Homo sapiens: one gene and its partners. The protein of the gene in region 2 interacts with the protein of the main gene of each other region in a biochemical or structural test. Each region holds a gene or a part of one and is shown on either strand. Other genes may lie near its edges.

Evidence for each region.
Region 1: the proteins of MAPK10 (region 2) and DUSP9 form a complex in vitro, tested with the Homo sapiens proteins (one study listed by BioGRID).
Region 3: of the proteins of MAPK10 (region 2) and KIF5A, one has a biochemical effect on the other in vitro, tested with the Homo sapiens proteins (one study listed by BioGRID).
Region 4: the proteins of MAPK10 (region 2) and PKMYT1 form a complex in vitro, tested with the Homo sapiens proteins (one study listed by BioGRID).

What each region holds. Positions count from the first base shown.
Region 1 is NC_000023.11:153,643,023-153,650,204, forward strand, and holds the start of DUSP9 (dual specificity protein phosphatase 9), read left to right. Parts: upstream 1-4,180; 5' UTR 4,181-4,403; intron 4,404-4,896; coding exon of another isoform or gene 4,897-4,931; coding exon 4,932-5,304; intron 5,305-6,209; coding exon 6,210-6,665; intron 6,666-6,957; coding exon 6,958-7,182. UniProt on the Homo sapiens protein: Inactivates MAP kinases. Has a specificity for the ERK family.
Region 2 is NC_000004.12:86,009,873-86,014,057, reverse strand, and holds the end of MAPK10 (mitogen-activated protein kinase 10), read left to right. Parts: 3' UTR 1-3,653; downstream 3,654-4,185. UniProt on the Homo sapiens protein: Serine/threonine-protein kinase involved in various processes such as neuronal proliferation, differentiation, migration and programmed cell death.
Region 3 is NC_000012.12:57,574,019-57,581,054, forward strand, and holds part of KIF5A (kinesin heavy chain isoform 5A), read left to right. Parts: intron 1-1,065; coding exon 1,066-1,254; intron 1,255-1,621; coding exon 1,622-1,739; intron 1,740-2,068; coding exon 2,069-2,133; intron 2,134-2,250; coding exon 2,251-2,360; intron 2,361-2,742; coding exon 2,743-2,844; intron 2,845-3,694; coding exon 3,695-3,755; intron 3,756-3,990; coding exon 3,991-4,062; intron 4,063-4,219; coding exon 4,220-4,324; intron 4,325-6,937; coding exon 6,938-7,036. UniProt on the Homo sapiens protein: Microtubule-dependent motor required for slow axonal transport of neurofilament proteins (NFH, NFM and NFL). Can induce formation of neurite-like membrane protrusions in non-neuronal cells in a ZFYVE27-dependent manner.
Region 4 is NC_000016.10:2,972,301-2,977,475, reverse strand, and holds the end of PKMYT1 (membrane-associated tyrosine- and threonine-specific cdc2-inhibitory kinase), read left to right. Parts: exon of another isoform or gene 1-407; coding exon of another isoform or gene 408-444; coding exon 445-812; intron 813-1,663; coding exon 1,664-2,157; intron 2,158-2,819; coding exon 2,820-2,926; intron 2,927-3,058; coding exon 3,059-3,231; intron 3,232-3,318; coding exon 3,319-3,476; intron 3,477-3,991; exon of another isoform or gene 3,992-4,222; coding exon of another isoform or gene 4,223-4,260; coding exon 4,261-4,338; exon of another isoform or gene 4,339-4,411; coding exon 4,412-4,523; 3' UTR 4,524-4,668; downstream 4,669-5,175. UniProt on the Homo sapiens protein: Acts as a negative regulator of entry into mitosis (G2 to M transition) by phosphorylation of the CDK1 kinase specifically when CDK1 is complexed to cyclins. Mediates phosphorylation of CDK1 predominantly on 'Thr-14'. Also involved in Golgi fragmentation.

The DNA of each region.
Region 1 (7,182 bases), on a different chromosome or scaffold from region 2:
GCTCCCCCTACCATGCCCCCACCACCTCGAACTCCCCATCTGCCCATTACAGACACCCCACCCACGTTGCCAGCCCAGAGACACTGCAGTCCACCCATCCTGGAGCGAGGTCCCGTCAGAAACCCACATCCCAGTGGCTGACGCTCCCCACGTCCCAGGCACACACCTCCAGCATCTCCAACGCGCACTCTCATCCACCCCAGCACGCGCGCACACCTGCTGGATTCACGCTCTCCAGCATCCTGCCCCGCCCCCATCACAAATAGCCTTCGACACCCCCCAGCACATCTCTGAGTCCCTCCCTCCCTCACCCCCAACACCTGGCACGCGGGCTCTAGAGGCTGCAGCATTTGGTGGCATCCCTGCCAGGCACCTCTGGCTCCCCTTCGGCAGAGGCTCAGCAGCCTTGGGCCCCCCAGGTGCCTCCCTAAACAGACCTTGAGACTCCCCAGCGACTAGCTTGGCCTCTTCCCTAAGAAATAAAGAAGGCACTTTGGGGTCCAAGGTAGGGTACTTAGATGTGGAAGCAAGGGGCCCCGGGGAGGGGCGGGGAGGCGGCGGAGAGAGCCCGGCGCTGAAATGGAGGCGGCCCAGGTGGGACCAAAGGGGCGCCAGCTGCCCGGCAAGCACGTAGTAGGTGGGTTCCATGGGGGCTGGCGTCCGCGCGCGCTGTCTGGGTGCCTGCCTGCGTGTGTGTTACGGGGAGGGCTGTGTGTGCACGTGTGCTTGTGCGTGTCGGGGTGGGGGAGGAGTGTGTGATCGGCAGAAGGAAAAGCAGGAGCAGCTCCCTCAGGCAACAATTGGTTTCATTCATTCATGCCTTCTTTGTTAACGAGCATTTCTTCCGCGAGCGCCGGGCGCGTGCCAGGCCCTGCACTGGGGGCTGGGGCCAGCCTGGGGCCGGGCACACACCCGTTCCTGCCTTGGAGGAACTCCCAGTCCCGCGAGGAGACCGACCAGGAAAAGCAGAAAGCCATCCCCAGCAGAAAGTGGATTTGGTGGAAAAGACACTGGATTTGGCAGGCACGCTGTCGCCGGGACTTGTGCTCTTGGCCATGTGACCCGGCCGCGACAGCCGAAATCCTGTCACTCGGCCCGGCGGGAACGGTGCATCTCGTGGGGGAAGGCGGCGCGGCGCCGCTCTCGGGAGGCTCCCGGGACCAGAGGGCGCACGCGGCGCGCGCGAGGCCTGCAGGCGGCGGCGTCCCCGCGGCCTCCAGGGGGCGCTGGCCCGGCCCGGCGGAGGCCCGGGGCGCCCGGCGGGGGCGGGTGCGGGGGCGGGGGCGGGGGCGGCAGGCGCAGCGCCCACCCTGCGGCGGGCAGCGAGCGCGCGGCCTGGCTCAGCCCGCCGGAGGGGGCCAGACGAGGCCCGGGCGCGCGGCGCGGCCTCCCCCAGCACAGCGCACCCGGGAGCGGCTGCCGGCGGGGCGGCGCCCAGAGCCGGCGCTACAGGGGGCCTGAGTGGGGGCGGCCCGGCGAGGGTCGCGGGTGAGAGGGGGATTAGGGGGTTGGCTGCGCTCAGCCCTGCAGTGCGGAGGTGGCAACAGGTTCCCATTTGTCCTGTTGCTGGCGCTGCGGGCGCTGTGGGCCCCGAGCACTGAGCTCTGACTTTGGAAATTGAGCCCCTCATGGCCTCCTCCCAAATGCTTTCTCCCGGTGCGAGGACTTGGCAGCAGGGCTCCGCAGTTAGGTGCAGGGGAGCCCCTCGCCAAGCGTCGGGAGACGTGGACCCTTGGATCCTAGGCTTCCCCTCCCTTCCCCATTGCGGAGGTTGCCTCTCCCCGTCCTCATTCCAGCCCAGCTCCTCTCACCTCCAGGGAACCCTCTCCAGAGAGCGCCACTGAGCAGCTCAGGAGCTCCCTCTCTAGCCGAACTGAGCCCCCACGGCAGGGCGGGCCGGGGAAGTGGCTGTCCAGCTCCCTGCTGGTCACAGCCCTGCGCCACCCCCACTCTCCACAACAAGACTGGCACATGGCAGAACCTCCGTGGTGCCTTCAACCCCTGCCCACTCTGAGCTCCCACCCACAGCTGCAGTGGGCCTGGAGGCAGCCCCCAGGCTGGGTGCCGGTGTCCACCTCCACCACTGTGGAGCTAGGCTGTGGACAGAAAACAGAAGACAAAGTCCCTGCCCCAGGAACACACTGAGAAAGGGGGAAAGTGACCACACTAGGGAGCACAGAGGAGGGAGACTACTGGCTCCGAGTTGGGAAGGCTGCCTGGAGGAGGGGGCCTGAAGAATGAGCAGAATCTCAGAATCTGGGCAGGGGGCATAGGAGGGAGGCCTGGGCTGGGGCCCTTGCCCACTGGGTGAGAGAAGGAAGGGCACAGTCCAGCTGCCCAAAGCCCTTGGATGCAGGAATTAGGACTCTTGTTAGACGCAGGGACATGGGGGGTGTGGCCGGAAAGCAGCCCAGTGCCAGGGTCCTGGGAGTCCCCGGCTAGCAGCCCACTGCCCGAAAGGGAGGGAGAGAGGCAAACTGGAAGCCCCTTAGAGGTGACCCACCTAGCTTTCCGTCACCTGCCCTCTTACCTAACCATGACCTGAGACATTTTCTCCTCTAACTCCATGGCTCCTGAGAGGAGTCTTTAGACTCGTAGTTTGCTTTGCATTTTCCACTTGTTAGAAAAATGCTTTGTGGTGCCCATCCTCGTGTGCATAACTTTGCTTTCTTTTACTTTAGTTCCTTAGATTCCCAAAAGTGGTCAAAGGGTTGGGATTTTTTCCTAGCTCTTGATATTGCCAGATTAATTTCCAAAGGGGCCGTACCAATATATAACCCTGCAACAGTTGAACAGCACGCTGATTTCACAGCAATCTTGCCAGCACTGCGTGTTCTCAAAAATGAGAACATTTCTAATGCAGTAGGTGGGAAGTGTTACCTCGTTGGTCATTGTTACTTGTTTATTGGAGTGGCTTTCCTTCCACGCCTGAAGTTGAACCTTCCCCCAAATATTTGTTAGGCCACCGCATTCCCTCCTTCCTGCAGTATGCAGTGTTTTCAGGTTCTTTGCCCATTTATCTACAGGGGTCTTAACCTTTTAGTTGGGTATGAGCTTTATCTTATCTGGCGTACATTTTCCTTCAACACTGTTATTTGCTTTTGTTGAGCTTTAAGCAGAGAAGGGACTTTTAGCCAGATCAGCATTGTGGACACCTCCCCCTGACCCTGGTCTCCTGCCTCAGTGCTCACCACACCTGAGACCTTGTCCAGTGCTCTTGCTGCCTGTGGATCTGTCCCGCCTGTTGTGCCCATGGAGGAAAGGATGGAGGCCACCAGCCTTGGTTGAGTGGATGGCATTCTGACGTTGGGCAGGGCTGGGCAGGGCAGGGTGGAGGGCAGGTCGTTGCAGGCCCGGAGGCAGGGAGACTGTTGTGCAAGACGTGACAGTGACCTGGCCTAAAGCTGATGAATTTGAGCCCTCGGCTAGGGCAAGGGACAGGGGAGAGAGGCGTGGATGTGAGAGATATTTAGGTAGAAACTAGTTCTTTCCACTTTGATTAGCCGAAGGGGGGTTAAGGGAAGGAGGCAGAGGGGGGAGCCACGGGTGACTCTTAGGATCAGTAATGTGATAAGAGCAGAGTGCCCCAGTTTAGGGCTGGGAGCTCAGGGTTCCTGGGTGCTTTTGGCCAGTCCTGTGCGAGTGAAGCGGGCTGGTATTGGTAGGTATCCAGGAGCTACCCCTGCCTGCCTAGCCCTGCAGCAGACCTCTGGGCCAAAGCTGCACTAAGTTTCTGGTCCTGCCTCCTCCTCCCCTCCGTGATTTCGGTGGCATCCCAAGTTTGCCCAAGCTGCTAGCTCTGAGCCCATTACAGAGATGGGGCCACTGAGATCCAGGCAGGGGAGAAGATGCTCCAGTATCACCCTGTGAGTTGGGCTGGAGGCAGCTTCTGCGGCAGAGGGGCTGGGCTCTGGTCCTCACCCCTCCCCCTGCCTCCCGAGGCCAGGCTGGCGCCGGCCAGGGGAGCCGCAGCTGGTCCCCTGCTGGGCCCCTGACCTGCCCTTGGCCTCTGCCCCGACCCCGTCCCGCCTCGGTGGAAGCCCCAGCTCAGCCGACTCGCAGGTCCCACCCGACTGCTTCGGCTAGCACCCGTTGGCTCACCGGCCCGCCGGGCCCGCCCCCGGAGCCCCGCCCCGGCCCGCCCCTCGGAGTTGTAACTCCACGTCCGAAGGCAGTTTCCAAGGTGGAAGCTGGGTCCGGCTGCCAGGAAGCGGCCGGTGCGCGGGCTGCGCGGGCTGCGCGGGGCTCGGCTTCCACGTGCGAGCCTGCACCGCCGCCCCGCCCTCTCCTGGCGGCCAGGCCTGGGGACTCTCTGCCGCGGGACGGCGCCTCGCGTTCCGCCGTGGCAGTGGCCGTGGCCAGAACGTCCACGCGCGGTCGTCCACCGCCGGATCTCGCTCCAGGTCTCTTTCCTTTTGTTCTCTCCTAGGGGTAGGGGGAGATGGGGGACCGGGGGCCAGACCACCTCTGAGAGGACTCGCTGAGGCCCAGCACCTCGGCGCCTCCTCTGTTCCCCTGGCCCACCTGGCCCTGGGGGAGATCTAGGCCTCGAACGGCACTCCTCGCACGCACACCCCCAGCCAGAGTCGGAAGCTCGAACTTGGGGAGCGTTCGCGAGAAGACCGAGACAGGAGCAGAAAGGGGGTATGGAGGGAGGCGGCTGCGACCTCAGGGTACCCCAAGATGAGCCTCGAAGGGGCGGTTAGCCGCTCAGCCCTCTTCTCGAGGACCCTTCCCCGGGCCGAGCTGCTGCCTGGGGGGTTTCTTGGGGCGCCTTGTTGGGAGTCCTCATGGTGGGGGACCCTGGGCTCCCGCCTTCAGGACGCGGGGCCGGCTTCAAGTCTGAGCCCCCTCGGCCCTCCGGTAGCTCACACCGCGCCTTCTCTCTCTTCGCAGCGCCCGTGGTCCAGCGTGTAGGGAGCCGATCGCCCATGGAGGGTCTGGGCCGCTCGTGCCTGTGGCTGCGTCGGGAGCTGTCGCCCCCGCGGCCGCGGCTCCTGCTCCTGGACTGCCGCAGCCGCGAGCTGTACGAGTCGGCGCGCATCGGTGGGGCGCTGAGCGTGGCCCTGCCGGCGCTCCTGCTGCGCCGCCTGCGGAGGGGCAGCCTGTCGGTGCGCGCGCTCCTGCCTGGGCCGCCGCTGCAGCCGCCCCCGCCTGCCCCCGTGCTCCTGTACGACCAGGGCGGGGGCCGGCGCCGGCGCGGGGAGGCCGAGGCCGAGGCCGAGGAGTGGGAGGCCGAGTCGGTGCTGGGCACCCTGCTGCAGAAGCTGCGAGAGGAAGGCTACCTGGCCTACTACCTCCAGGGTAGGTGCCGCGGGGCCCTCCTTCCAGGGGGTTCGGGATTCATTTGACCTTAGGCCAGCCCCACTTCTTTTTTTCTAAAGCGAGTTGAGGCCCCCCTCCCCTGATGACCTGCCAGGCTGCTTTGAGAGGAGGGAAGCCTGAGTGTGACCGTGGGGAAGTTCTTCACCCTCGGCAGCCCAGTCTCTGAGCCTGGAAAATGGGGAGAATTAGCCTGACCTGAGCTAGTTCTCAGGATGCTCAAGAACGAATTACAAAGTGCGGGCTCCCCAGGGTCTCGGCAAGGGTATCCCCACCTCCCCAACCTGCTCAGGAATGAGCAAGGGAGGCAGGGGTCAGACAGCACTGGTGCAATCACGGCTCACTGAAGCCTCCTGGGCTCAAGCGATCCTCCTGCCTTAGCCTCCCGAACAGCATATAAAGTGTCAGGTGTCCAGCCCGGGGAAATAGTATCTGTAAATAGAGATGCTGGCTTCTTGAGCCATATTCTCCCCCAAGTTCCCCCACATCTTGGGGTCCCACTTCATCCCTGAGAGTCAGGAGATGCCCAGGCAGAGAGCTGACATCTGAGTTCCTCCTTTTCTTTAGCTGATGGCCGCAGTCCTCCCTAAGGCTGGCAGTGCATCTCGGCTCTGTTGAGCCCTCACACCTGCCTCAGCTTGACCCTAGGGGTGTAAGATCCTTTCCGGTGGCTCAGCGTGAGCCCAGCTTCTTGCAGCCCGAGCTGACTGAGGGTGGCTAGGGCCCCACGTGGGTACCAGGACACACCAAGCTGCTGGGTTTTGTGTTCCCTTTGGGAACATTTGCAAACCCTCCAAGTTGTCCAGGGTCATCTCCCCAGCCCCAGACAGAGGCACTTGGCTGCCCAGAAGGCCAGGTCAGCAGGCCCCATGCCCTCTCCCCAACAGGAGGCTTCAGCAGATTCCAGGCCGAGTGCCCTCACCTGTGTGAGACCAGCCTTGCTGGCCGTGCCGGCTCCAGCATGGCGCCGGTGCCCGGTCCAGTGCCCGTGGTGGGGTTGGGCAGCCTGTGCCTGGGCTCCGACTGCTCTGATGCGGAATCCGAGGCTGACCGCGACTCCATGAGCTGTGGCCTGGATTCGGAGGGTGCCACACCCCCACCAGTGGGGCTGCGGGCATCCTTCCCTGTCCAGATCCTGCCCAACCTCTATCTGGGCAGTGCCCGGGATTCCGCCAATTTGGAGAGCCTGGCCAAACTGGGCATCCGCTACATCCTCAATGTCACCCCCAACCTCCCAAACTTCTTCGAGAAGAATGGTGACTTTCACTACAAGCAGATCCCCATCTCCGACCACTGGAGCCAGAACCTGTCGCGGTTCTTTCCGGAGGCCATTGAGTTCATTGGTGAGTCCACCCCACCCACCCTTCCCTCCTGTCCTCCCCAAGGCCTGCTCTGGCCTCCCCCTTGTGAGTACTCCTCCCAAGCCCCGCTGCCATTCCCAGAGCCAAAAGCCTAGGTGACAGTTCTAGGGGACAGGCAGAGCTAGGGCGGCCCCCAGAGGCCACTAGAGAAACCTGCAGGTCGTGGCCATCTGGCCCAGGGGGCAGGGCGGGGCCTTTGAGGGCCCTTCGGAAGGCCTCGGCCTCACACACGCCTGCCCTCCGGGTCTCCCGGGCCCTTTCCTGCCCCATCTAGATGAGGCCTTGTCCCAGAACTGCGGGGTGCTCGTCCACTGCTTGGCGGGGGTCAGCCGTTCTGTCACCGTCACTGTGGCCTACCTCATGCAGAAGCTCCACCTCTCTCTCAACGATGCCTATGACCTGGTCAAGAGGAAGAAGTCTAACATCTCCCCCAACTTCAACTTCATGGGGCAGTTGCTGGACTTTGAGCGCAGCTTGCGGCTGGAGGAGCGCCACTCGC
Region 2 (4,185 bases):
GCTGTGTACTCATGTGCAGGGAAAATTAAACTGCTGCAAGAGTTTGGCAAAACCGCCACCACTTTACTATTAATATGTCTTTACTATTTTTATATGTGTTTTGTGGGTCAGCGTGTTCAATTTTAAATAGGAATACACTAGCCTTACAACGGAATTTCTTCTTGTGGAATAAAAACTGATAATAACCTTTCATCTTCAAGAATCTGATGACTGAGTTTTGTAGGAATGTACCCAACAGTTGGACCAGAGCCTGGCCAGTTCCCACCAATTGGAGTAAGCTATTTAATTGAGGGTTAAGAAGCTCGATAGTTTTTTCAATCTGTTATCAGAAAAATATTATCTAAAGACACTGATAGCAGCTGACTGGTAAAACTGAAAGTTGGCCTTAGTAAATGGAACTAGTAAAAAATAGATAAAAATATGTAAAACCTTTTATGTCCTGTCAAGGAAAAAAAAATAAGCAAACTTGATTTGTTTTAAAATTGTAAATATTCATTGCAAAACCTAAATTATACAAAATCTATTTCGATTTGAATCTCTTAACATATGAAAAGCCACATCTTAAGTGCATTATGCTCTGTAAGGCATGTTATTAGCCAGCTTTGCTGAAAAATGTATTCTTCTACAGCTCAGAAAGAGGAGTAAAATTGCTCTAGAAATTTTTGATCTCAGCCACTTTGCATCCAAAGAGGAACCCAACTCCCCACTCACAATCCCCCACACACATTTTAATTATAAGAGTTCAACATTTTCCACAGATATCATTAAGCCAAGCAAGGAAACTCCTCTCTGTAAAAACAACAAAAAAGTTGCAATGTAAATAGTTATTTTAGCTATTTTCTTTGTGATTAGAGGATAAGATTTTGTTATTTCTTTTGGTACTTAGTCCTTTAACTATCTGAAAATGGCTCACTTTGACCTGTTTCTTTGGTCAGCCAAACTGAAGTGAGGGGCCTCTGTTTATATATAGAATCTTGTATATGTAACTTTACTTATGTGGGACCAATGGCCAGTATATTCTAATGGACACAAATCTCCCAATCCTTATGTAGGATTATCTGTTCACCTTGCCATGTCCATCTTGCAATGAGACCTAACTTGCACCTGCCTGTTTTTCTGCATGATTGGACTCCAAAGACTATTACCAATGATGAGAATTGTCTTGTGTCAGTGTTTATAAAATGGACTTAAAGCACACACACATGCATACCCACATTCACATGCACCCTTACAGTTCTAGATCAACCCTGGAAGGCAAAACCATGTACGTCCAGTTTCTTTGCAAGGTCTGAGCAGTGAGAACTAAATTCAGTCAGTCTAATGGGTAAAATGCAACCTCAGTGATGCTTAATAAGGATTTGAAATCGTTCAAGTCATTTCTGTGTTCTTTCTCACACCCTTTCCTTTCTATTTTGTCTTCTTTTATTTTCAAAATGTCTGTGGAACAAGAGGATGAATCGGGGGAGAACTTCTGCTTCTTTTGACTCTTTTTAGGTAATATGGAGTCAATATATTATGATTTCTGTTTCTTATGGATTATTAAAATCAGAGGAAATCTGCTTCTCTCAACATAAAACCAAATCCAAACCCAGACATTGTTGGAGTTTGCCTGTTGACAATGGTTATGATGCTGCTCGTTGTCTTGAGTTGCATGTAACGACAGTAGCTCTGAAGGGTGTCATGATTTCATTTTGGCAACTGGTAAAAGAAACTTGTAGTGTGGTCTGATTGTGCCAGGGAATAAATAAGAAATAAGGAATGACCTACTTTCTCACCTTGGGTCAAGAGTGTGTGATATGAATGTGACCATGTAGAAATCTGTGTTTTCATTTGACACTGGTTTCTTCTAAAACTGACCTTCATTTCTGTCTGTAGATACTAGTTGTATATCTGCAATTCAGTAATTTCTTTTTAAGGTATAAAATCAATGAAGAAAAAAAAGATCATCTTTTGGGGGGGCATTAGGTAAGTAGAGCAGGGTTAAATTTCCCAGATTAATTATCAGATTTCTATTCATTTTAACTATTTTCCAAGAGAAAAGGTAAAAGCCTTTGTTTAGCTACATGATATCCAACTTTACTATCTCAAACTCCTTGGAGAATTAAAAATATATATGATTTTGTGGCTGGATGAAGAGGTCACTGCACTTGCATTAGTTTACTTTGCAGTGTTTGAACAGTTGAGGAGTGGCTCTTCTATTTCTGTAAATAATGTTTTATTTAACCAATTAACTATTAGAAAGCCTGGAAGATAAACATACACATTATTTTGAGTTATCACATTTATCGTTTTACCTAGTTCCTGTTGGAATATAGAAAGCAACAGCTTTTTGTTATCTCTGGAACAGCTTCTATCCTAGTTTAAATCACAGATCCTTACTCTCTTTAAAAAAGGTCAAGCATAGGTACCTAAAAATACCCACAATAATAAGAAGGGAAATTGCATTCCACAAGATGATTGCTCTTAAAGAGTCAGAAGGAGTTATTGGTGCATTCCTGATACCATAAATGGTTACCAAACATTTGGTAATTTTGACCAAGTTCACAGTAAGGAGAAAAAAGGGTGTTGGACTTGCTTTTCTTGAAGATTACTTATGGAGCAACCAACCTAGAAGGATGAATCTACTTGCCAATAACAACACTGGATCACAGCCAAGGCAGAGGTTTTTGACATTCCCAATTCATCATGGTGGTGTTTTGTATTTGTAACATGTCTTTTCTCCACAGATGTTGAAAGGCATGCTTGGATGACACATGCTAATAGTGAAACACGCTGAAAGTCCTGCCATCACAGATCACTTTATGTTGGGAGCCACTCTATGTGGCAAGTCATCTGTCCCAGTTCCAGACTAAATTTCAACTGTTCAACCATTTACATCATTGTAGTCTGTTTAAGGCACTAAAAATGTGCTGTAGAAATTTATATTTCTCAGACACATGAAATGTGGTGACACATCCAGCAACAAGTCAAACACTCCTTTGAAATTTTCTACCTTATGTCAAATATTTCTTACTTTTAAAGACATTCCTATCCTGGTGTAAAATCCAACATAAAATAATTTGAGGGAATTTAAGGAATTCAAATTTCACTCCGTGGGGTACGTGGCTTTATTTCTTAATCACTGAACTTCTAGTAATGTTCTTCACCTGATCTTGTCTGCGATGTTTAACCAACAGTCCAGATCATTTGCAACTCAAAAGCAGGTACAAAATGTTATCCATCTTAAAAACCCCTCACATATTCCCTAGAAGACTGTCCCACACATAATTCGCCTTCCATTAACACTTGTGAACCCATCCTGGTGAAAATATTGCCTATGAACAATTATACCAAAAAATCAATTTTTATAATGCAAATAATATTTTACACAGACCAAGAGAATTCATAATATTAAAGTATTTCTTTTATAAAAGGAAGGTTTTCAGAAAGCAATGGCCTATTCCTTCATGTTAATACATTGCGAACTTGGATTTGGTGTAAATCAAGCCCTGAGAATATTGCTCTGAATTTCTAGCTTAATTTCTGAGCAACATTCTAAAGCAGTTCATTAATTTACTCCAAAAACATTTCTTGGACACTTCGGTGTAGGAGATATATATTGCATGGTCCTTAACCTAAAAAATTCAGAGTTAATAAATCTTTGTTTAAAAAAACTAAAGCAAATATTTTTATTTCATTTATTTGCTATCTTTTTACAAAATGTATTTAAATTAGTGGTGTGACTTGCACGAGTCCATTTTTATTATTTGCTTAAAGCGATGAAACAAGGAGTCTGCTTCTTTCAATGTTCTTATTTTGTCTAATTATATAAGTATACTTCATGAATCAGCATGAGAATTTTGAATATTTTCCATTACAAGAGATGAAACCACTTTTAAAAATTATTTAAAATTTAAAATTCATTTTAAAAATGCATGGATGTTCTTTTCCGCATTGCAGAAAGTTTGCTTTGATGTATGGTTCCTCTGAGAGCTATTGGACCTAGATGCTGACTGAGCATGGGGCTTATACTTTTGGCATCACAATCTCCAAATTAGCAAATGATATCACAATGGGTACTGAAGCTTCTTTGCAGTGACATTCTTACATGAAGCCAAATCTTCGGAGTTTGTTCAGTCTATGGGTGACTGTTGGAACCCTAAAATAACTTAAAGTAGAATTTGGTCATTTATTGTTTTTTTTTAT
Region 3 (7,036 bases), on a different chromosome or scaffold from region 2:
CTTGCAGTGAGCAGAGATGCGGCACTGCACTCCAGCCTGGGTGACAGAGGGAGACTCTGTCTCAAAAAAAAAAAAAAAAAGCAGCAGCAACAGAGCAGTGCTTGCAGTAGGAGTTAGAGGTGGGGCATAGGCACAGAGTTCAGAATGAAATATGCAAATCTGTGGATGTGAGAATAATCTGGGTGATCAAGGAGATCAAAAGAAAATCATGTTGCTTTATAAGATTTATTTGTAAGTGGGGGACTGTCAGAATTGGATTTTTTTTTTTTTTTGAGATGGAGTCTTGCTCTGTTGCCCAGGCTGGAGTGCAGTGGTGTGATCTCAGCTCACTGCAACCTCCGCCTCCCAGGTTCAAGCAATTCTTCTGCTTCAGCCTCCCGAGTAGCTGGGACTACAGGCACACACCACCTCTCCTGGCTAATTTTTTATGTTTTTAGTAGAGAGAGGGTTTCACCATATTGGCCAGGCTGGTCTCGAACTCCTGACCTCGTAGTCCACCCACCTCGGCCTCCCAAAGTGTTGGGATTACAGGCGTGAGCCACCGAGCCCGGCCCAGAATTGGATTTTTTTTTTTTTTTTTTGAGATGGAGTCTCACTCTGTCGCCCAGGCTGGAGTCCAGTGGTGTGATCTCGGTTCACTGCAACCTCCGCCTCCTGGGTTCAAGCAATTTCCTGCCTCAGCCTCTTGAGTAGCTGGGATTACAGGCATGTGCCATGATGCTTGGCTAATTTTGTATTTTTAGTAGAGACAGGGTTTCACCACCATGTTGGTCAGGCTGGTCTCGAACTCCTGACCTCAGGTGATCCACCCACCTTGACCTCCCAAAGTGCTGAGATTACAAGGCATGAGCTACTGCGCCCAGCCAGAATTGGATTTTTAAATGCAGGCGGAGGAATTTAATGTGAAATGCCGCTGATAGAGAGCTGCTAAAGGTCGTTTGGAAAATACCCATCCCATTTGAGTCCCTGCGTATGTGGGTGTGTATGGGTAGGTAGAAGGTGGGAGGGAACAGATAAAGCTTCCCAGCAGCCAAGAAGCATCTCTTCCTCCTTTAATCACCTTAGCCAGTGGAGATCAGTGGGGCCATCGAGGAGGAGTTCACTGTGGCCCGACTCTACATCAGCAAAATCAAATCAGAAGTCAAGTCTGTGGTCAAGCGGTGCCGGCAGCTGGAGAACCTCCAGGTGGAGTGTCACCGCAAGATGGAAGTGACCGGGCGGGAGCTCTCATCCTGCCAGCTCCTCATCTCTCAGGTGAGTGCCTAAGTTTGAGAACCTTCAGATGCCATGGGAGAAAGAAGGCTACTCTGGGGTTATGGCTAAAACTCCTAACACCCACCTTTATGTCAAAGTTCTGGGGTCAAGTGAAATCAAGGACAGAAAAGCTGGGGTGGCAGGGGTGCAGATCAGGGCCAAAAAAGTAAAGGCTCAGGGCGGGTACTGCCCCCTGAGCCATGGGAGCTAAAGGAAGAGCCCCATAGGAATGGCCCCCAACCCTGCACCCTCATGGGAAGTGTAGCAGGAGGGAGGGCTGGGAGGAGAGCTGGAGTTGGAGATCTGTGTGGCCTGGGTTTGTGTCCTTTGCTCCATCTTCTTCCTCTCACCAACTTTCTCCCACCAGCATGAGGCCAAGATCCGCTCGCTTACGGAATACATGCAGAGCGTGGAGCTAAAGAAGCGGCACCTGGAAGAGTCCTATGACTCCTTGAGCGATGAGCTGGCCAAGCTCCAGGCCCAGGGTGAGGCCTTCTTATACCTCCATCCCACTGTCCAGGGCAGAAAAGTCAGAAACATCAAAATAAATCACCCCAATAATCACTCACTCAAAGCATTAGCTTGAAATCATGGATGCCAACTCATATGTTAGCCAAGGTTTTGCATGTAGCTCATTTTACATTAACCATACACCCTTGTTCTCTGTTCCTGCTATATCAAATTGGACAGTCCTAACACAGAAGAACATCCCTGTGGGTCCATTCCCAGCCCTGCCTGGAGTTCTGGTCACAACGTGAAGTTCTTTCCGAAAGAGGTAGGTTTGATGTCAGCTGTCTTCCCCTCTTTCCCTTAGAAACTGTGCATGAAGTGGCCCTGAAGGACAAGGAGCCTGACACTCAGGATGCAGATGAAGTGAAGGTGAGTAAGGAAGGTGTCAGGGACAATTGGGGCCTGGTGTGGTGAAAGCTGTGCTGGCCCTCACAGAGCTTGTTGCTGGGAGTCTGGCCTTTGAGCTTGGGGTGGGGTTGTTTGCAGAAGGCTCTGGAGCTGCAGATGGAGAGTCACCGGGAGGCCCATCACCGGCAGCTGGCCCGGCTCCGGGACGAGATCAACGAGAAGCAGAAGACCATTGATGAGCTCAAAGAGTAAGGGTTCCCAAGGGCGACTCCAGCCCCTCCCGGGTCCTGTCACCTTGCTGTATTGACTCACATGTCCCCTCTGGGTCTGATTCTTTAACATCCATGTGTCATTCCCTCAACAATGCCACAACTTCGTAGCCCCACCTCAGGAGACACATGGAATAACGACTAGTCCCTATCCTTGAGGGTCCCAGGATTAGAGAGGTCAGGGTTCCTGGCTCTGTCATGGAAACAGTGGCCTGAGTCTGCCTCTGGTATCTGAAGGTGGACACATCAATTCTAACTGGACTCACTCGTTCAAAAAGGAAGAAGTTTGAAGAGCTGGCCTTCCCTTCCCCCTCATTAACATCTTTCTCCCCCATCTCCATTACCTTCTGATGCTCTGTAGCCTAAATCAGAAGCTCCAGTTAGAGCTAGAGAAGCTTCAGGCTGACTACGAGAAGCTGAAGAGCGAAGAACACGAGAAGAGCACCAAGCTGCAGGAGCTGACGTGAGTGGCATGGATTTACCTGTAAAACTACAGCCTTGTAGGCTCAGAACTGTGAACTCAGACACGCTTGCAGAGGCAGGACACACATGCAGACATGATAGGGTGACTCATGGGAAAAATATGATGGGGTAGGGACGGGACCAAAAGGACACTCTCAGCAAAGACTGCCGTTGAGTATTCACCAGTATGGAAGGAGGTTTACGTGTTCTATTCAGTGTAAAAACAGGTTACAAAACCATATGCATGGTATGATCCCATAAAAATGTATACATGGATATGTAGGCATAGAAAAAAGTCTAGAAAGGTGGACACCAGAAGGTTAATGTTGGTTTGATCTGTAAATAGTAGAATCATAGGCTTTTTATAAAAACTCACCTTATGTCTCTCTTTAAAATTCTTTTCTAATTTTTGCACAGTAAACATGAGTAACTTGTGTAATAAATAATAATAGGCTGGGTGCGATGGCTTACACCTATAATCTCAGCACTTTGGGAGGCCAAAGCAGGTGGACTGCTTGAGCTCAGTAGTTCGAGACCAGCCTGGGCAACATGGCAAAACCCTGTCTCTACTAAAAATACAAAAATTAGCTGGGCATGGTGGCATACGTCTGTGGTCCCAGATGCTTGGGAGGCTGAGGTGGGAAGGATCCCTTGAGCCCAGGAGGTTGAGGCTGCAGTGAGCCCTGATTGTGCCACTGTACTCTATCTAGCCTAGGTAACAGAATGAGACCCTGTTTCACAAAATAACAATAATAGTAATACTTAAATGGAGATAAAAGTAATAGAGGAAGAGGCAGGAGGAAGGAGAGTCCTGAGGGATCTTTCCATTTCCCTTATTTCTCTTGCTACAGATTTCTGTACGAGCGACATGAGCAGTCCAAGCAGGACCTCAAGGGTCTGGAGGAGACAGTTGTGAGTGGTTCCCTTCTGTGCCAAATTCACAGGACTGGGGAGTGGGGAGGCTTCATTTCTTCCTAACCCTATTCCTCCTGCCCTTTTGCAGCCATTCTGTAGCGTAATCAAGACACATTTTTTCCTAAAGGATAAGTGACTCACTTGATTATAGAGACTGGAGGTACCTATAATTCTGGAGGAATAGGACAGACCTGGTATCTGGCTATTCCCAATTTTTCATCATTCTTTCCAGGCCCGGGAACTCCAGACCCTCCACAACCTTCGCAAGCTGTTCGTTCAAGACGTCACGACTCGAGTCAAGAAAGTGAGTGCTGTCCTTGGGGTTTTGTCAGCCCCCACATCCTCCTCCTATCCTTAGGTTTCTCCTGCCCCTGTTGCCCCTATGGGGCTGGCTTGGCCTGGTCTTGGTGGGACCTGTTTGGCCTCAGGACAGCCACGTCTTTCCTTCTATCTGTTCTCAGAGTGCAGAAATGGAGCCCGAAGACAGTGGGGGGATTCACTCCCAAAAGCAGAAGATTTCCTTTCTTGAGAACAACCTGGAACAGCTTACAAAGGTTCACAAACAGGTAAGAGTCTGCTGAAGGAGTGAAGAGAATTTTTGAGGCCGGGTAGCTAGCATACCAAATCCTCAGAGGCCCCTTGGATTCAGGAAAATCTAGTTGCATGTTTTCCTTACTGTTCGCTTTTACTTTCCCTACTAATCCCTTCTTTATACCATATTTGGTCCACTTGTACCTTGTTCTTTGTTTCATGCCTGTATTCCCTTCTCAAAGTTTCTAACCCACCTCTGCTCAAAGTGGAATTCCCCAGGCCTACCTTGGAGGGAGAGGTTGAAACTAACAGAGGCATGGGCTGTAACTATACAGGAGGGAGACTGGTCAGACGTTACCCAGAGATGGAAGGCAGGGAGATGAGAAGAAGCAAGGGAGTTGGGCTTCTTTCGTGGAGAGAACTCCATCTGTCTAGGTCTGTGGCAGGCATGCAGGGACATTAAATGATGTCCCTGGCTAGGCACAGTGGTGCATGCCTGTAGTCCCAGCGCTTCAGGAAGCCGAGGCGGGCGGATCACTTGAGCACAGGAGTTCAAGACCAGCCTAAGCAACATGGCGAAACCCCATCTCTACAAAAAATACAAAAATTAGCCGGATGTGGTGGCACACACCCATAGTCCCAGCTACTTGGGAGGCTGAGGTAGGGCAATTGCTTGAGCGCAGGAAGTAGAGGCTGCAGTGAGCTGTGATCATGCCACTGCACTCCAGCCTAGGTGACAGAGTGAGACCCTGTTTCAATTAAAAAAAAATGATGTCCCTAAGATGGCCCAACCAGCCCCTGGTTGGGGCCCCAGTCAAAACTCCTGTGTATTAAGTTGCTGCCTCTCTGTCCCCCTCCTTGCTGTTGCGGTTCTTTAGGTGGATGACTGGGTTTCAAAGGTATGGGCTGGGGATGCAGAAGGGCAGTCCAAAGGAGTCAGGACAGGAAATGTTTGGTGCATGCTGGGTAGGGGCACTCTCACTAGCACTAAATATCTGAGCCTTGAAGACAGGCTCGGCAGGCTGTCAACTGGTCCTTTTAACTAATTCATAAAATAAACCCTAACCTATACTTCATTCCTTTCCTTTCAAATCTACCTTAAGATTCCATTTAAACTTACATTCTCACTAGCCTAGCACTTAAACTTCTTTTCCTCCCAGTATAATGCCCAGCTTATATAGTAAATATTCAGTACTTTTTTTTTTCTTAATGAATCCTAAACCTGTGCCCAGTGATAATGTACAGAGTTTATTTATCTTATTTAGGCCTGCAGAGGGCTTTGCTACGATTTTATTTCCTTTATTATGAAACTGAGTAACAAAATTATAGAAAAGTTGAAAGGCAGATAGGAAACATTTGAAATCAATTCTGCCATTCGATTTTCATTCCCGCATTCACTTTCCCTCTCTGTCCAAATCCATATTATGTTGCTTAGAACACACACACACATGTGTGTGCTACTCTGGGCCTCTCTGCCTATGGGAAAGCCCTGCTCTATGGAGCAAGCCCCAGAAAAATTTCCATGAAAAAACACAACCACACACTGTTTCCTTTATCGTCACTGAAGCCTCTGCCTCTGTTCAAAGTCCCAAAAAAACAAAAATGACTCACCTATAGGATAAATAGAGGACTCACTACAATTTCCTACCTCAGCAGACACAAGAGTAAAAAGGAAAAGGAGATAAAAACTTCTCAGTTAAGAGAATCTTAACAGCCAGGACTATAGCCCTATATCAATTAAGCTAAAGTATTGTCACAGCAAAACATTGCTTATACTCCATAAATTGTCCAAATGGAAACTGCATGGAAGGGTTTCTAGCTTGTCCCCTTGAGCCCCCAGTGTTCCCCGCTATGCTGATTTACCCGCTGTCTTCCAAGGCCCTGCTCCTTTTGCAACCTATAGTGCCCCCAGTCATTGTGTGGAACCTGTAAAAAGATCAGGAAGTCTTTTCGGGCTGCAGGGTGGTTGCTCCCATGCTCTAGCTTAATTTCACTGGGGGAGGGATAACCCAGGAAGTCCTTGAATGTGAAGGTAATGAGTGCAAATGTTTGTGAGACCTCAAACATTTTCTTTCCTTCCTACGGGGCGGGCTCTGCCTGTCTATATGTGTATGTCAGGGGCTCCTGAATTCCAGCTTCTGCTCCTGCTCTGCACTGCACCTGCCATGCACAGATTCTCCTCAATGCCACAGCCACCAAACTGCTACTGTGCCCTTGCTGCCCCACCCTTTGCATGCCCACAAAGCCCTCTCTGGGGAAGCGGGTCCCTCATCCCCATGGCCGCCCTGGGGCTATTGATCTGGCACATGCTGGGAGATGTGGGGGAAACCAGATGGAGACAGGACAAGGCGCTCTCACAAGAGTTCTGGGCTGCAGTGGAGATGGCAGGTTTTACTGCCTAGAAAATTATATAACTTTTAAATGCCTGACCACCCACCCTTCGCTCTGGGAGAAGGAATGAGCTGGACAGAACAGTCCATTACATAAAGGCAATGAGGCCTTTTGAGGAAATGACATGGTCTCCATCTTCTCTGACTCCTGATTTTTCTTTATTCTCTCTCCTCACCCCTGTCCCCTACGCTCCTCTGGGTGACCGTCTTGGGTCACTTGCCTTCCTTTCCACTTCTTCCCTTTGGCTTGCCCCATAGCTGGTACGTGACAATGCAGATCTGCGTTGTGAGCTTCCTAAATTGGAAAAACGACTTAGGGCTACGGCTGAGAGAGTTAAGGCCCTGGAGGGTGCACTG
Region 4 (5,175 bases), on a different chromosome or scaffold from region 2:
TGAAAAAGAAAGACACTTGAGGGATTCCGGGTTTTCACTTTGGAATTGGAGATAAGGGATCGTGGGCCCGTGTAGTCTCGGAAGAGGTTGTGTAGTTTAGGATCAAAGAGCTGGCCGTGATGAGGGCAGGGATGCAGGCGCAGCCCGTCTGACTCCAAACTGCCTTGCTCTTAACCCGACTGCAAGACCCTCAAGAACACGGGCCCCATGGTTTTCCTCTTATGTTTCTATCATCTCTAAAATACAACAGCCTGGTGGGCAGGTGAGTATGAATCTGTCCTCTGCCTTTTCTTGGTAGGTGCTTATTGCTCCCATTGCCGTTTAAAGTAGAATAAGTGTGTGGTATAGACATAGCTCTCTTCTGTGGCCTCTTTGGAGCCACAGGGCCAGGTGGTATCAGAGTGGACATGCTGCCCTGTACTCAGCCTCTGTCTCTGCCCCCAGGGCCTCCTGCACTGGCCATGCCCATGCCCACGGAGGGCACCCCGCCACCTCTGAGTGGCACCCCCATCCCAGTCCCAGCCTACTTCCGCCACGCAGAACCTGGATTCTCCCTCAAGAGGCCCAGGGGGCTCAGCCGGAGCCTCCCACCTCCGCCCCCTGCCAAGGGCAGCATTCCCATCAGCCGCCTCTTCCCTCCTCGGACCCCAGGCTGGCACCAGCTGCAGCCCCGGCGGGTGTCATTCCGGGGCGAGGCCTCAGAGACTCTGCAGAGCCCTGGGTATGACCCAAGCCGGCCAGAGTCCTTCTTCCAGCAGAGCTTCCAGAGGCTCAGCCGCCTGGGCCATGGCTCCTACGGAGAGGTCTTCAAGGTGAGTGAGGGGACGGCTTCTAGGCCCATCTGGGGGACCTCCTTTGTGTTTCTGCACCTCCCTTGGCAGGACAGTGTCCTGGGCAGCCTGATCCCCTTCCGTTCCCTACAGCCTGTCCCTGCTGGGCTCACAGGCTCCCTCCACATTTGACTTGGCTGCTCCCATCATCCCCAATGCAGGCCCCTCCAGGGGTTGCTCTGTGCATACTGGCCCCTTGTCCAGAGTCTGGCACGCCCTGCAGCAGCCCCTGTGCCATCTCCTCCGGCCCTGGCGCCAGCTGTGCAGCGTCCTTGGCGAGTCGGCCCAGCCTCTGGCACTGGCCCTGAGTGCAGTGCCTGGCCAGCCCTCCCCAGGCTGGCAGGCTTTGAGCTACCCCCTGCCTGCCATCTTGCTTTTCTTAAACACAGTTTCCAGTCATTTATATTTTCTTTTAGAGAGGAGTTTTCCCTTGTATGAGTCCTGTATGAAGACAATTTTGTTAAAAAGTACAAACAACATTGGCCCCCAGGTCAGCTTTCTCACAGGGGAGCCCACTTTTCACACCACAGCCTGGGCTGCCTGTGTTGCTCTGCAGCTGCTTTTTCCACCTCGTGACACATCCAAGAGGTCCCCTGGGGTCAGTGCAGGTCGGCCCTGGCTCCTCCGTCGCTGGGTCTCCACAGACCCAGCCCGAGGGATGGAGGTTTGTCTGGTTTTGTTATTACCCTGGGCAGGGGTCTGAGACAGATGCCAGCTACACCACCGTGCCCCGTGTGTGAACCCTTAATGGGGTCTGCCAGGTTGTCCCCCTATGTGATTGTGCCACTTGTGGCTCACCCTCACTGTGTGCGTGGGTACCACCTCCCTTCCAGGTGCGCTCCAAGGAGGACGGCCGGCTCTATGCGGTAAAGCGTTCCATGTCACCATTCCGGGGCCCCAAGGACCGGGCCCGCAAGTTGGCCGAGGTGGGCAGCCACGAGAAGGTGGGGCAGCACCCATGCTGCGTGCGGCTGGAGCAGGCCTGGGAGGAGGGCGGCATCCTGTACCTGCAGACGGAGCTGTGCGGGCCCAGCCTGCAGCAACACTGTGAGGCCTGGGGTGCCAGCCTGCCTGAGGCCCAGGTCTGGGGCTACCTGCGGGACACGCTGCTTGCCCTGGCCCATCTGCACAGCCAGGGCCTGGTGCACCTTGATGTCAAGCCTGCCAACATCTTCCTGGGGCCCCGGGGCCGCTGCAAGCTGGGTGACTTCGGACTGCTGGTGGAGCTGGGTACAGCAGGAGCTGGTGAGGTCCAGGAGGGAGACCCCCGCTACATGGCCCCCGAGCTGCTGCAGGGCTCCTATGGGACAGCAGCGGATGTGTTCAGGTGGGGACCGGGGCACGCCAGGTGTTTGGCAGGCTGTGGGAGGCCCTTCCTGGGACGGAAGCTCCATTCCCCAGGAGGGAAGCTCCACCCTAGCCCAGGACACCCGGCCTCAGAGCCACAAGGCTGAGACGCCATCCCTGCCCTCCAGTGGAGAGCGTCTCTGGTCAGGCTGCCTGTGAGCCTCGAACCCTCCAGAGCCACTTTGTGTAACCTGCCTCCTCACAGCTCCACAGGAGAAACAATTGTCACTCCATTTACAGCCAGATTAAGGGCCTTGCCGGAGCCCACTGCTAGCAAGTGGCATAGCTGAGACTGGCCCTAGGTGCTGGGTTCCAGGGTCCACACTGGTAACCACTGCCCTGATCATCAGGATAGTAATACCTGCCAGCAGTAACTGTGGTGCCTGTCCATCAGGGCACTGGGAGGACTCACCACTGTGGCTTGTGGGCTCCCTGGGCACAGAGCCCATATTCCATGATGTCCCCATCCTGCCCAGGGTTCATGATCAGGCCTGTTGGGGTGTCCCTTCCCCCTGCTTCCGCCCCTCCCTGACTGATGAAGACAGCAGCCCTCTCCCACCCACCTCCAAGAGGCAGCCCTGGACTGGGTCTGTGTCCCAGGGCCAACCCTGCCCCTTTCTGTCCCCATCCCGTCCCTGCCAGTCTGGGCCTCACCATCCTGGAAGTGGCATGCAACATGGAGCTGCCCCACGGTGGGGAGGGCTGGCAGCAGCTGCGCCAGGGCTACCTGCCCCCTGAGTTCACTGCCGGTGAGTAGGTGAGGGCGGGAGGGGGTGCTGCCACGGGCTCCTGGGGAGATAGTGGCTGGCCATGGAGGCACTGCTGGGCTCAGGGTGCAGTCGGTGTTCTGGGACCCCGATGTGGCCCTTCCTCATGGGCAGGTCTGTCTTCCGAGCTGCGTTCTGTCCTTGTCATGATGCTGGAGCCAGACCCCAAGCTGCGGGCCACGGCCGAGGCCCTGCTGGCACTGCCTGTGTTGAGGCAGCCGCGGGCCTGGGGTGTGCTGTGGTGCATGGCAGCGGAGGCCCTGAGCCGAGGGTGGGCCCTGTGGCAGGTAAGCTCCCGACAGTGGCGGCTGCCTGCCCTGCTCCCCAGCCCCGGGGGTCCGCCCACCCACATCCTGAGCTCCTCTCCCCCACAGGCCCTGCTTGCCCTGCTCTGCTGGCTCTGGCATGGGCTGGCTCACCCTGCCAGCTGGCTACAGCCCCTGGGCCCGCCAGCCACCCCGCCTGGCTCACCACCCTGCAGTTTGCTCCTGGACAGCAGCCTCTCCAGCAACTGGGATGACGACAGCCTAGGGTGGGTTCAAGTGCAGGGTATGGGGGGCTAGGGGGAAGGTGGGGGATATCACCGGGGCTCCATGGAGATTCGTGGTGAATGGGGACCACTCCCACAAACCTGGCCCCCATCACATCCTGGGGAAGGGGACCAAGACTGGGGGTGTGTGGCCTGGCCAGGCTTAATGCAGCTGGGCATGTGGACTGGCCGTTCAGGGCATGGCTTCACACTTAGGGCACCAGCACCCCAGGGAGTGGCTGGCCGCGCAGCCCCGACCCCAGTGGAGGCTGCCAGTGCCCAGGGATAAAACATTGTCCCTTCTCTGGGAAGAGAAAGCCTCTGGAGTCTGGGGAGCCCTGCCCTGGGAACAAGTCCTTGGTCCCTGGGGCCTGGTGTCTTGAGTGAGAGGCTGTAATTAGGAAACCACACGCTCAGGGCAGACAGCTCTTGGGGACTCTGCCGTTAGCCCCTTCCTTACAAACACATCACCTCATCCCTCGGGGCACTTGATAGCAGACAAGAAGTTCCAGAAAGGCTTACATTTACTAAAAGTTTATTTCAAATCTGCCTCCAAGTCCATGTGTTCTGAAAAGGACAGAGGGGGCCTTGGAGTGCAGCCAGATGGAAGGACTTTGAAGGCTGTCCAAGTGCTGCTTTCAGAGTGCACCAAGTTTTTATTGTCCCTGACTGTGGCTCCCTGCCTGTTTGTCAGGCGGGAGCCTGGAGCCTGCACAGGGACAGAGCTGGTTTCATCCGGCACTCCCTAGCCCTGGACACCCTCCTTGTCTCGCCTGCCCTCCTGCAGGCCTTCACTCTCCCCTGAGGCTGTCCTGGCCCGGACTGTGGGGAGCACCTCCACCCCCCGGAGCAGGTGCACACCCAGGTAAGCAGGTCCAGGGGCTGGGGTGGGCAGGGCTAGCTTTTGGATCCTGAGTGTCACTACTCTCTCCTCCCAGGGATGCCCTGGACCTAAGTGACATCAACTCAGAGCCTCCTCGGGGCTCCTTCCCCTCCTTTGAGCCTCGGAACCTCCTCAGCCTGTTTGAGGACACCCTAGACCCAACCTGAGCCCCAGACTCTGCCTCTGCACTTTTAACCTTTTATCCTGTGTCTCTCCCGTCGCCCTTGAAAGCTGGGGCCCCTCGGGAACTCCCATGGTCTTCTCTGCCTGGCCGTGTCTAATAAAAAGTATTTGAACCTTGGGAGCACCCAAGCTTGCTCATGTGGCAACATGGCCCTTCCTGTCCCTTTATTGATGTCATCCAGGGTCTTAACGCCCCTGAGGCTGAGCCCTGCTGCAGAACCCAGCGCTCCTGGCCTTGGGCCAGCAGCTGAAGCCCCATGCTGTGTGGAGCAAAGAGGTTTCCTGAGCAGGCACATCCCCCGGTGGGTACCTGGAGCTGTTGGGAGTATGGCACTCAAGGTGGAGGGCAGGCACGGCCCAGGGGTCCCAGGATCTGAGGCCGCTGAGCTCCCTGTGTCAGTTTCCTGGAAGAAGCAGCTGCAGCCCTTGTGCCTGTGGCCAGCTGGTACAAGACGGGTCCACGCCCCCTTGGTCCTTTTGTCCTGAATGCCTTACTCCATAGTCTCTGGGCAGAGGGAGCCAGGGCGGGCAAGCTTGTGGCTGCTGGGAGGGCTGGTATGCAGGGCAGAAAGATGGAGATCAGGAAGACTGGCCACAGGCCTGGTGGGAGGAACAGGATAGGGTGAGGAGGCTCTG